3 linked regions of the Homo sapiens genome follow. The protein of the gene in region 1 interacts with the protein of each later gene in a biochemical or structural test. Each region holds a gene or a part of one and is shown on either strand. Other genes may lie near its edges. The genes, in order: APPL1, MAGI2 and SHANK1.

Region 1 (3,653 bases):
GTACTGGAAGTTCAAAGATTTAGCATTTAGCTCCAGTTCCTCCAATAACACTGTAATGTTCAGCAAGTCACAGCTTCTTCATTTGTAAAAAGAAAACAAGTAAACTAGATAGCCTCTGTATTTAATATTAAATCATTAAAATTATCTGAACATAAGTGCTATCATGAAATTTCAATGGCATATTCTGTGAATTCAAGAAAACTTAAGGATTCTTGTTGAAAGTCTATCTATACAGATACTATACTTTTAAAATTATGCTTTTAAAACTTTGATATACAATACCTGTTTTTCATATTCTTTTAAAAGTTTTGAGGTCAGGTGTGTTGCTGCACTTAATTCATTCTATGGAAAAAGCATTCAAATTAGCATATTACTGGGAAAAAAGTTTTAGTTTTTTCTAATTAAATACCTAATTTATTTATTATCACTTAACATAAATATTGTACATGTTTTTTAAAACCTTCATTAAATCACTGGAAAGGGGTACTACCATTAAAGCACTTTAAAAGAAAACTCAAACCATAAAATAGACACTCTCCAGGAATTCAGCAGTGTTCCTGGTGTTTGTTTTTTGCTAATAAAAACTAAGCACTAAATACTTTAAAGCCTAGAAATAAACTGATATAACCTTAGCAAAATCTTTAGAGCATCTACGTTGATGACTGATTATTGCCCTCTGTAGATGCTGATACTAGACTACAGTAAGCACTTAATAACATACAACCAAAATGTGGTTGACCCAGTCATATAACATAGCAACACAGCCATATGAAAAACTTTAATTTAGTTTTTTTGGTGAATATAACAAAGAGAACATTTCTTTAACATATTAATCATATATCTCTGTAGTCAGAAAGCAAAGCTTCAGAGCCTGATCACAAGGAAAAACTAAACAACAACATAGCAACTCTTAAGTACATAATGAAAATGTGAAGCCAGAAAGCAAACAATATGAGAAGGGAAAAAAATAAAACTTGTACGCTTAATTAATCCCAAAGAAAGTATATTACAGAACCTAGGTTGCTGTTTAAGCTTATAATTAAGTTATCCAAACATAGCTTCAAATTTTATTGCTGGTCAATAAGAAAACTTAGTCATACCCTTCATCTTCTTGTACTCCAGAGGTACATCTAATTTTTAGTGCCTTCTTTTAACTAGACAGAGGCAGCCAACTTTCAAATCCTCCACTGAAAAAGGGAAAGTGTTGGCCAGGTGCAGTGGCTCACGCCTGTAATCCCAGCACTTTGGGAGGCCGAGGCGGGCAGATCACCTGAGGTCAGGAGTTCGAGACCAGCCTGGCCAACATGGTGAAACCCTGCCTCTACTAAAAATACAAAATTATCTGGGCGTAGTAGTGCATGCCTGTAGTTCCAGCTACTCAGGAGGCTGAGTCAGAAGAATTGCTTGAACCTGGGAGGTGGAGGGTGCAGTGAGCTGAGATTGCACCATTGCACTCCAGCCTGGGAGACATTAGCAAAACTCCATCTCCAAAAAAAAAAAAAAGGGGGCTGGGTACAATCTCAGCACTTTGGGAGGCCAAGGCGGGCGGATCACCTGAGGTCGGGAGTTCGAGACCAGCCTGACCAACATGGAGAAACCCTGTCTCTACTAAAAATACAAAATTAGCCAGGCGTGCTGGTGCATGCCTGTAATCCCAGCTACTTGAGAGGCTGAGGCAGGAGACTCACTTGAACCTGGGGTGTGGAGGTTGTGGTGACCCAAGATCACACTACTGCACTCCAGCCTGGGCAACAAGGGCAAAGCTCCATCTCAAAAAAAAAAAAAAAAAGTGGGGGTGGGGAAGTGCTCCATAAGATTGTAATAAGCATGATTAGGGAAAATACCAGTGATGACATGGGGTCTTCATTCAAATCTTAGGAAAGATCACTATCAGTGAGTTTAATGGGGGGTTCCCCCCAAACTATGTTTGGGGAGAATGGGCAGATGCTTCAATCGTCTATCACTTTTGTAGTACTACAAACTGTACACTAGTAGTTGAAATGTCAGTTCTGTAATACACTCAATGTTCATTAATCCATTCAACAAATATTTATTACTATGAGCCTAACACAGGGCTAAAGCAGTGGTAAACAAGACAGACACTATCTGTCCTCATGAGGCTTAAAGATTCGTGTTTTAAAAGCATCAAGTTAGTCCTTAGTGTTTTACCTGTGCATCATAAATCCGATGCATAGCTTGATACAACTGGTTCATATAGTTGGAAATAGCTGTGGCATCTTCTTCAAATACACCTAGTAAAGACCTTGTCTGTATAAAACAATAGCAATAAGTTTATGTTAATCATTATACAAATCAGATGGAAAAATATTTTTTCTAAAGGAAGCAAAAATCGTAGGATATTAAAGTTCTAGTAATTCTGAGTTTTAATCTATTTTGTCTCTTTTGATAGTAATGTTAAGAAGTCTTTTTTTTTTGTTCTTAGTTTCACTTCAACAAAGCAGAGGTATTTTCCAACTATGTCACACAAACTTTAGGAGAAACAACAGAGGTATATTTTCATAAACTAAAAATTCTATAAACTAAGAACAAATCAACAGAAACGTTCAAAGCTAAATTAACAGCATTCCATGTAGTATAAATATTTTAAATGTCTTACTTCAGGATAATTTAGTATGATTATTTCTTCTACAGTTTTTGCTAGAAGAGGCCAAACCCCTTCCTGTCCTAATCTAAAAATACCACAGTACACCCTCCCCAACATGGCCGACTCTTCAGCATATAAAATGCTAACTAGGTTTTTCCGAATGCACAATTTGGGGGTTTTCCTTTCTTCTTCTTTATACATGTCTATATTGTTTGGCTTTTGTTTTGTTTTGTCATTTTTCTACCATGCACATTTAAAAATTATCTTCATTTTAGGCCGAGCACAGTAGTTCATGCCTGTAATCTCAGCACTTTGGGAGGCCGAGGCAGGCAGATCATGAGGTCAGGAGATTGAGACCATCCTGGTTAACACAGTGAAACCCCGTTTCTACTAAAAATGCAAAAAATTAGCCGGGTGTGGTGGCACGTGCCTGTAGTCACAGCTACTCAGGAGGCTGAGGCAAGAGAATAGCTTGAACTTGGGAGGTGAAGGTTGCAGTGAGCCGAGATCACGCCACTGCACTTCAGCCTGGGCGGGCGACAAAGCAAGACTCTGTCTCAAAATAAAAAAATTTTTTTAAATTATCTTTATTTTAAGGGGGAAAGCTTATAAGTAAATGTTAAGAATGTCAGGCCGGGTGCGGTGGCTCACGCCTGTAATCCCAGCACTTTGGGAGGCCGAGGCGGGTGGATCACGAGGTCAGGAGATTGAGACCATCCTGGCTAACACGGTGAAACCCCATCTCTACTAAAAATACAAAAAAATTATCCAGGCATGGTGGCGGGCCCCTGCAGTCCCAGCTACTCAGGAGGCTGAGGCAGGAGAATGGCGTGAACCTGGGAGGCGGAGCTTGCAGTGAGCCGAGATCATGCCACCGCACTCCAGCTTGGGCAATAGAGGGAGACTCCGTCTCAAAAAAAAAAAAAAAAAAAGAATGTCAATAAAAATTTGTCAAAGATAAGGAAACTAAGGCTATCAAAGGCAAGGTAGACATACTCACATTACATCCCAAAGGCCCAGGGGAAGAATGAAAATACCAATAACTACT
Region 2 (3,653 bases), on another chromosome or scaffold:
AGGTCAAGGGTGCAGGTTTTGGGATTAGGGAGCTGGGTTGACACCTTGGCTCTACTATTTAACAGATACATGATATTGACCAAGTTCCCTGCTTTGAGCCACAGTTCCTCATTTGTAAAGTTGTGAGAATGAAATGACATAATGTAGGAAAAGTACTTGGCATAGTGTATGACACACAGTGCTCAATAAATGTGGACTATTATTAATATGATTGTTGTTAAAATAGGATGGAGGAGATTTGGGTCCCTTGGTTTCAAACAGAAAGTTGCCACAGTTCATCCTCTGATCTTAGATAAACTAATATTTCTGTGGATCAGTTTCAATAAAGGCACTTGTCCTTTCTCCCCAGTGAACTATCACAGATTTTCAGAGGTCTACTGGTTAGAGGCTAACTTTATGATTAGAAATGCTCTGAATGCAAATTATCCATTATAAAATATATTCAGAGAAATATTTTTTCCTGCTTAAAATGCAGAAAATCATGGCTGTTTGAGATAAATGTTTTTTTAAAAATTTCAATTATGTATGAATAACAATTTTATTTTTGGAGAACTATTTTATCATGGATTGGTATTTTTATCTTCACAAACCATAATACTTGAAAATTGAGCTTGCAAATTGAGATTGTGCCTGACTATGCTGAGGAGTATATTAGGGATGAAGAGACATGTTTTCACAGATCTTGAAATAAGCAACTCAACAGACATCAGTTTATCAGAATAATTCTGGAATGGGAGGTACAAATGGCTAGGGATTTCATTCTGAGACATCCTTGCCCAGCAAGCTTGCAAACGTTAAAAATGAAAAACAGAGTTGAACTTTTAGAGTTGACAACTTTTCTGGTCTTTTGTAGGTGTATAACATAAAATGAATAAAACAATTAACAGCATTGTCTTAATTAACAGTCCCTCTTCCCAAATTGACAGAGAGGCCAAGCAGACATTTTCAGGGATCCAGGTTAGGTCTGCCTCTAGAAAATGTCACAACCTATGTGATTGGTCAGATGGAACTTCACTTTTCCATAATGTCTATCAGAGAGGGTACTGATGTGGTGGCTGGAACGTGGGTCCACGGCTCAGAACTGAATTGGAGTGGACATTCCCTCACTGTTATTATAATTCCTCTTCAGACTGTGGCAGCTGGGGATGCTTTGGGAATCGTTTTTAATTGATTCCATTCATCTCAGTGTCCCAGAGAAGTGTCTGATTCAGATAGACTATTTTTCTCTCCTGTTTCTTTTAGTTTTAATGTTATATTTTCTACATTTAAAAGGTTGAAAGAACAACAAATACTTGTATACTAACATCCAACTTAATGATTGGAACATTGCTCATATTAGTTGAATCCCCCTTGGCTAGCACCTCTCCCCCAACTTGCACTCCTTTACAGCCCTTTCCAAGGTAACCATTGCCCTATTTGAGGTTTGTTATTTACATATACCTTTATAATTTATATCATATCTAGGTGTCCGTAAAAACAATATCTCTAAATAGTATCTAATCTCTAAATAATAATAATCCCTGGAAAGTATTTTACATATTTTAAGCCTTTTGTAAATGGTATATATTTTAATATTCTGTAACTTTTCTTAAAATATGTTTGTGATATTTATCTATTTTGATACTTGTGCCTCTAGTTGATTAGTTTTCATTGTAATACAGTATTTAGTGATGGCTATATTACTACTTAATAACATTCATCCATTCTTTTGTTAATGGACACCGGAGTTATGACAAATCTGTGGCTATTGAAAATAACTCTGCTATGAACCCCATGCTGGCACAGACCATGTGCATCTTCAACTTTGTTAGATAGTGGCAAATGGCTGACAAAAGAGGTCACATTGATTTACACTCTGATCGGTAGTGTGTTGAAATTTTCATTGCTTTACATCTGACACAGTACTTCGTATTCTCAGACTTAATTTTTACCAATCTAATGGATGTGATCATAGTTTTGATTTGCATTTCCCAGACTGCCAGTGAAGGTGAGCATCTTTTCATGTTTATTGGCCTTTTGGATTTTCTCTTGGGTATGCCTCATTTCCTCAATTTCCTATTCAGTGAGTTTTTTTTAACTCATTGACTATTTTTTATGTCTACTTTCATTCTTGCTCCAACATTCTTCTTAGGTTCAGGAGGCTGCAAGGTATAGTAGAGATCACATGGGATATGAGGTCAAAAGACTTTGGTCTGAGTTCTAGTTTCATCACTTATTAGCTGTATAACTTTCCCAAACTGGCTTCAATCCTCTGTGACTCAGATTTTTTAGAAGTAATGATGAACAATAGTAATAGCAACTTATTGTTCCATGGGAAATAACGAATGAGATCATACAGGTGAAAGGGTTTCTAAGCTGTAAATTGTTATGCAAAAGATGATTGCTATTTCAGTAATTACTCTTTGTCCTTTGTTATATTCTTCTATAAAATCAGGACAGTTCTACCCAGATATTCCCACCACAGTTACAGTCAAGGATGACTTGAGTATGATTGTGGAAACAATGGGTTTCTGAATGGCCAAGTAAAAGTCAGAGAGGTAACAAATGCCACTTCCTCTAAGGCTCTCCCTAACTTTAATCACTGTTAACAGACTCCCCAGTCCCCAAGCACGCTCTCTCCTTCCCTCTGCTCTGCCAGAATTTCACGGGAAAGAACTAAGGGTTATGTTGAAAGCTCTCAAGTTTCCCTGCCAGGTCTAGAGAGTAGTAGTTTGAATTGTAGTGATTAATGTTACCTATTTTTGAGTTTTAATGTGATCTTGCTATTTAGAAACAGAGTGAGAACTATTTGTGTTTCTTAGTAAGACTGCCTTTTACAATTTATGGATATTTTCCACTAACAGCAATTTTTCAAGTCATCAGGCAAGGATAAAGAACACTGCAACAATATCTTTATGAAGATACGTAGAAGATTTCTGAATGTAAAAGATGAGTGGTCAGTTATCACAGGATAAAACTATATAACAACTTGATGGTACTCAACTGCCCACTTTAAAAAAATATATAGATGTCTAGATAATAAGTCATGCCCAAAACTCTTATAGACGGGGATGTCAGCAAACATTTGCTTGTTCAGATAGAACTTATTGGATAGAATATTAATAGACTGTGCTGTATGAATGTCATTTACATGTCGTGAAATAAAAATATAAGACACCTGGTATATGTCATCTGACGGTGCCATGCCAAGTCCTCAGACAGATTGGGTTTAAGAGCACAGAAAGGGACATCATCAGGAAGACTGGCTCTGGCTCTAACCTGTTGGCCTACTTAAGACGGAGAATTGGAAGAGTCACTTGATCTCCCCATCTCTCAATTTCTTCTTTTATAAAATGGGAATAAAAATATCTCTTACATTTCCTCTTTTGCAGAGCTACTGTGAAAATGAGATCATCCTTGTGAAAATACTTATAATTTTATCAAATTTTTTCTCCATAAAAATAAGAAGATACATTTCTTTTGAAAGCTAAGCATATATTTTCATTACTACATTGCTGGAAAATTTACTTTGTTTGCTAAATGGTCATTCACTTCAGGCCATATTTAGGTTAGTTCTAGGGCTACTGACCTCAGGCCTGTTGGTCAGATTGAGTGTGAGTGATGAGTTAGGTGTCCCACAGGTCTGGTCTCACACTAACCTGATTGCCAATTAT
Region 3 (3,653 bases), on another chromosome or scaffold:
AGGTCAGACACATTTGGATAGCAGACCTTCAAACAGAATTCAAGTGAACTCTGTAGATGGACAAGGATATTTAAAACCTGCTCCCAACCCTCTGTGTATCTGAAGCAGAAATGTAACTCTACTTTCTCTAGGACTAGAAGGTCTTGAATGGGCTCGAATTCTGCGACGATGCAGCTGACTGGCTGCTCTGGGAAGCATCTGCATCATCCCGTATTTCCCCACGTAGAAGTTGCTGGGCTCTTGTTCGAGGCCCCCTCTTCCCCCATCCCATGTTACAACAATGGCACACACTAAATCCTCTCAAAAACTCTTTGGGCTGGCACTAGGCCATTCCACTTCTACAGAGAGGTGGATTCATTTGCCTAAGATCACCCAGGTAGAAAGTGCAGGGTTGGGACTGGAAGCTGAGAAGGTGGGCTCTAGAACCACACCTATAACTGCATCCTGTCTTGAACCACACTGGCTTCAAGGGACTCACAGATTTCAGGGACTGTCAGAAAGAAGTGGCAGCTCACCAAGGAAACAAACATAAGCAGGTCTCACTCCAGTCTCCTTTGTTAATAACTTTTTTTTTTTGAGACGGAGTCTCACTCTGTCACCCAGGCTGGAGCACAGTGGTGCAATCTTGGCTCACTGCAACCTCGGCCTCCCGGGTTCAAGTTATTCTCCTGCCTCAGCCTACTGAGGAGCTAGGACTACAGGTGCCCACCACCATGACCGGCTAATTTTTTGTATTTTTTTTAGTAGAGATGGGGTTTCACCGTGTTAGCCAGGATGGTCTCGATCTTCTGACCTCATGATCCACCCGCCTCAGCCTCCCAAAGTGCTGGGATTACAGGCGTGAACCACCACGCCCAGCCTGTTAATAACTTTTTGTTCATCATGGGATGTAGGTTGTGATGGTGATGGGCAGAGACAACAGAAGCTACTGAAATAAATGGAAATTTAAAGGCTGGACCCAGTGGCTTACACCTGTAATCACACTTTGGGAGGTCAAGGCAGGAGGATCACTTAAGCCCAGGAGTTTGAAACTAGCCTGGTCAACGTAGCTTGTCTCTACAAAAAGTTAAAGAAAAAATGGCCAGGGCCAGGCATGCTGGCTCATGTGTGGAATCTCAGCACTTTGGGAGACCGAGGTGGGATGAATCACCTTAGGTCAGGAGTTCAAGACCAGCCTGGCCCACGTGGCAAAACCCCTCATCTCTACTAAAAATACAAAAATTTGCCGGGCATGGTGGCGGGCACCTGTAATCGCAGCTACTCAGGAGGCTGAGGCTGGAGAATCGTTTGAACCTGGGAGGCAGAAGTTGCAGTGAGCTGAGATTGTACCACTGCACTCCAGCCTGGGCAATAGAGTGAGACTCTGTCTCAAAAAAAAAAAAAAAAAAAAAAAAAAGAAGAAGAAAAGAAAAATTGGCCAGGCATAGTGGCGTGCACCTATAGTCCCAGAGGATTGCTTGAGCCCAGGAGTTTGAGGCTGCAAGTGAGCTATGATTACACCACTGCACTCCAGCCGGGTGACAGAGTGAGACCCTGTTTCTAAAAAAAAAAAAAAAGCCAGGCATGTTGGCTCATGCCTGTAATCCCAGCACTTTGGGAGGCCAAGGCGGATGGATCACCTGAGGTTGGGAGTTCGAGACCAGCCTGACCAACATGGAGAAACCCCATCTCTACTAAAAATACAAAATTAGCTGGGTGTGGTGGCATGGGAGGCTGAGGCAGGAGAATCGCTTGAACCCGGGAGGCAGAGGTTGTGGTGAGCCGAGATCACGCCATTGCACTCCAGCCTGGGCAACAAGAGTGAAACTCCCTCTCAAGAAAAGAAAAGAAAAAAAAAAAAAGAAAAAGAAAATATTTGTGAAAGCATGCTTCTGTGACAGCAAACTCCTGCCAACCTGGTTTCTGTTTCCTTTCTGCCACCCTGAGACCCTAAAGGGACACAGCCATGCCATCAACACCTCTGGCCTCCCTTGTTGGCCACCAGCCCCCGCTTACCTCTGCCGCTGCAGGGAGGAGGTCCTCTCGGGGACATAGCTGGCTCCCCCGTGGTGGCTGTCTCCGCCTCCCCCACTGCCTCCTCGGGCCCAGGGCAGAGCGCCGCCAGCTGCCGAGGAGCCCCCAAACTGCTGAAGCTTGGAGCTGAGTTCACTGATGATGCTGGCTTTTACTGTGGCCAAGGCTGAGGCCTGAGGCTGGGCCAAGGGCCCGGGCAGAGGTGGTGGCGGTGGGCCCGGGCCCTCCTCCCAGGGCAGCAGCTTCCGGGGCAGAGAGGAGGCCGTCGGCAAGGGCACCGGTGGGACTTCTGGCTCTACAGCCACCGGACCCCCCGCCACGCCTGCCGTGGGGGGTCCTGAACAAGCACGCAGGGCCAGCAGCCCATCGGTTCCAGCCCCTGTCACCGAGACGGTGGGGCTGGTGGGGGTAACAGGGTCTCGGAGTCCCCCGCTGGGGCCAGGCCGCAGGCCTCCGCTGGCTCCTAGCGCCCGGCCCCGGAGCTTAGAGGGAGTCATGAGCTGAGGAGGGTATGGCGGGCCGGGAGTACTGCTGCCCCCAAAGGCCTGGCCGTCCAGGTAGGCCACATAGGTGTCCAGAAGCTCCGGCCCACTGGCCACACCGGCCCCAGCCCCGCCCCCACCCCCTGCGCTGCCACCACCTTCGGCAGATAGGCTGCTCAGCGTGGAGGCGCTGCTGATGGTCTCCAGTGGGTGGTCACTGCTGCTCCGACTGTCCACCTCCTCGATGCCAGAATCCGTGCCAGGCGGAGGGTCCGGGCCAGGCTGTGGGGCAGCGGGAGCCGGTGCTGCTGGGGCAGGCGGGCCTGGTGGATGGGGGTCCCCAGGAGCGGCGGAGGCCCCCTGGGTCAGGGTGGCCACCTCGCTGTCATAGGATGTCAGGCTGGATGCGGTGGAGTCCAGGGTGGGAGGGGCTGCGGCCACAGCCGGGGGTGGCACAGGGGGTAACGGGGTGGCAGGGGCAGGTGTGTCGGGCAGCGGGTGGGGAGGCCCAGGCGTGAGGGGCGACTCTGGCTTTTCGAAGCTGTTGGAGAATTCCAGAGGCGGAGGCAGCGGTTCCACGAAAAGGAATTCGCCATCTTCCACATCCACCGAGGGGGCGGGAGGCGGCAGGACCAGCAGGGGCAGCCCGTTCTCTTCGCTGGCCCTCGGGGAGGTCGGGGAGGGGGGCACGGACCGGCGTGGGCTGGGCGGCGGGACCCCCGGCCCGTCCTCCGAGGGGGGACCCCTTCCGCTCGTCACAGGGGCCCGGGGCTGGCAGTTTTCAAGGAACCGCACGTGCAGCGGCAGCCGCTCGGGTTCTTCGGGGGCTGCGGACCTCCAGGGCTTGCTTACTCCGGGGTGCGGGGCCGGGGGCTCCGTCCCCAGCTGCAGCAGGAGGGGCCCCACCCCGGGAGCGGTGGGCGGCAGGCGGTGTAGCAGGGAACGCCGGGCGGCGGGCGGGCTGGCGGGAAGGGACTTCTCCTGGCTGCCCAGCCCGGCCCTGTACCCCAGCTCCCGGCGCGCAGGGTCCGGCGGGGAGGCCCCCCAGAGACGCAGCACTGGCTCGTGGTGGGCGTGGGGCGAGTGGTGGTGCGGGGTGGGCGGCGGGGCCTCGTAGCGGGGCGATGGGGGCCTGGGAGGCGGCTGGGGGGCCCCGCC

Evidence for each region.
Region 2: the proteins of APPL1 (region 1) and MAGI2 interact in a test that uses a peptide from one of them, tested with the Homo sapiens proteins (one large-scale study listed by IntAct).
Region 3: the proteins of APPL1 (region 1) and SHANK1 interact in a test that uses a peptide from one of them, tested with the Homo sapiens proteins (one large-scale study listed by IntAct).

The regions. Positions count from the first base shown.
Region 1 is NC_000003.12:57,234,181-57,237,833, reverse strand, and holds part of APPL1 (DCC-interacting protein 13-alpha), read right to left. Parts: intron 2,269-3,653; coding exon 2,170-2,268; intron 343-2,169; coding exon 283-342; intron 1-282. UniProt on the Homo sapiens protein: Multifunctional adapter protein that binds to various membrane receptors, nuclear factors and signaling proteins to regulate many processes, such as cell proliferation, immune response, endosomal trafficking and cell metabolism.
Region 2 is NC_000007.14:78,257,132-78,260,784, forward strand, and holds part of MAGI2 (membrane-associated guanylate kinase, WW and PDZ domain-containing protein 2), read right to left. Parts: intron 1-3,653. UniProt on the Homo sapiens protein: Seems to act as a scaffold molecule at synaptic junctions by assembling neurotransmitter receptors and cell adhesion proteins. Plays a role in nerve growth factor (NGF)-induced recruitment of RAPGEF2 to late endosomes and neurite outgrowth.
Region 3 is NC_000019.10:50,664,197-50,667,849, forward strand, and holds part of SHANK1 (SH3 and multiple ankyrin repeat domains protein 1), read right to left. Parts: coding exon 1,996-3,653; intron 1-1,995. UniProt on the Homo sapiens protein: Seems to be an adapter protein in the postsynaptic density (PSD) of excitatory synapses that interconnects receptors of the postsynaptic membrane including NMDA-type and metabotropic glutamate receptors via complexes with GKAP/PSD-95 and Homer, respectively, and the actin-based cytoskeleton.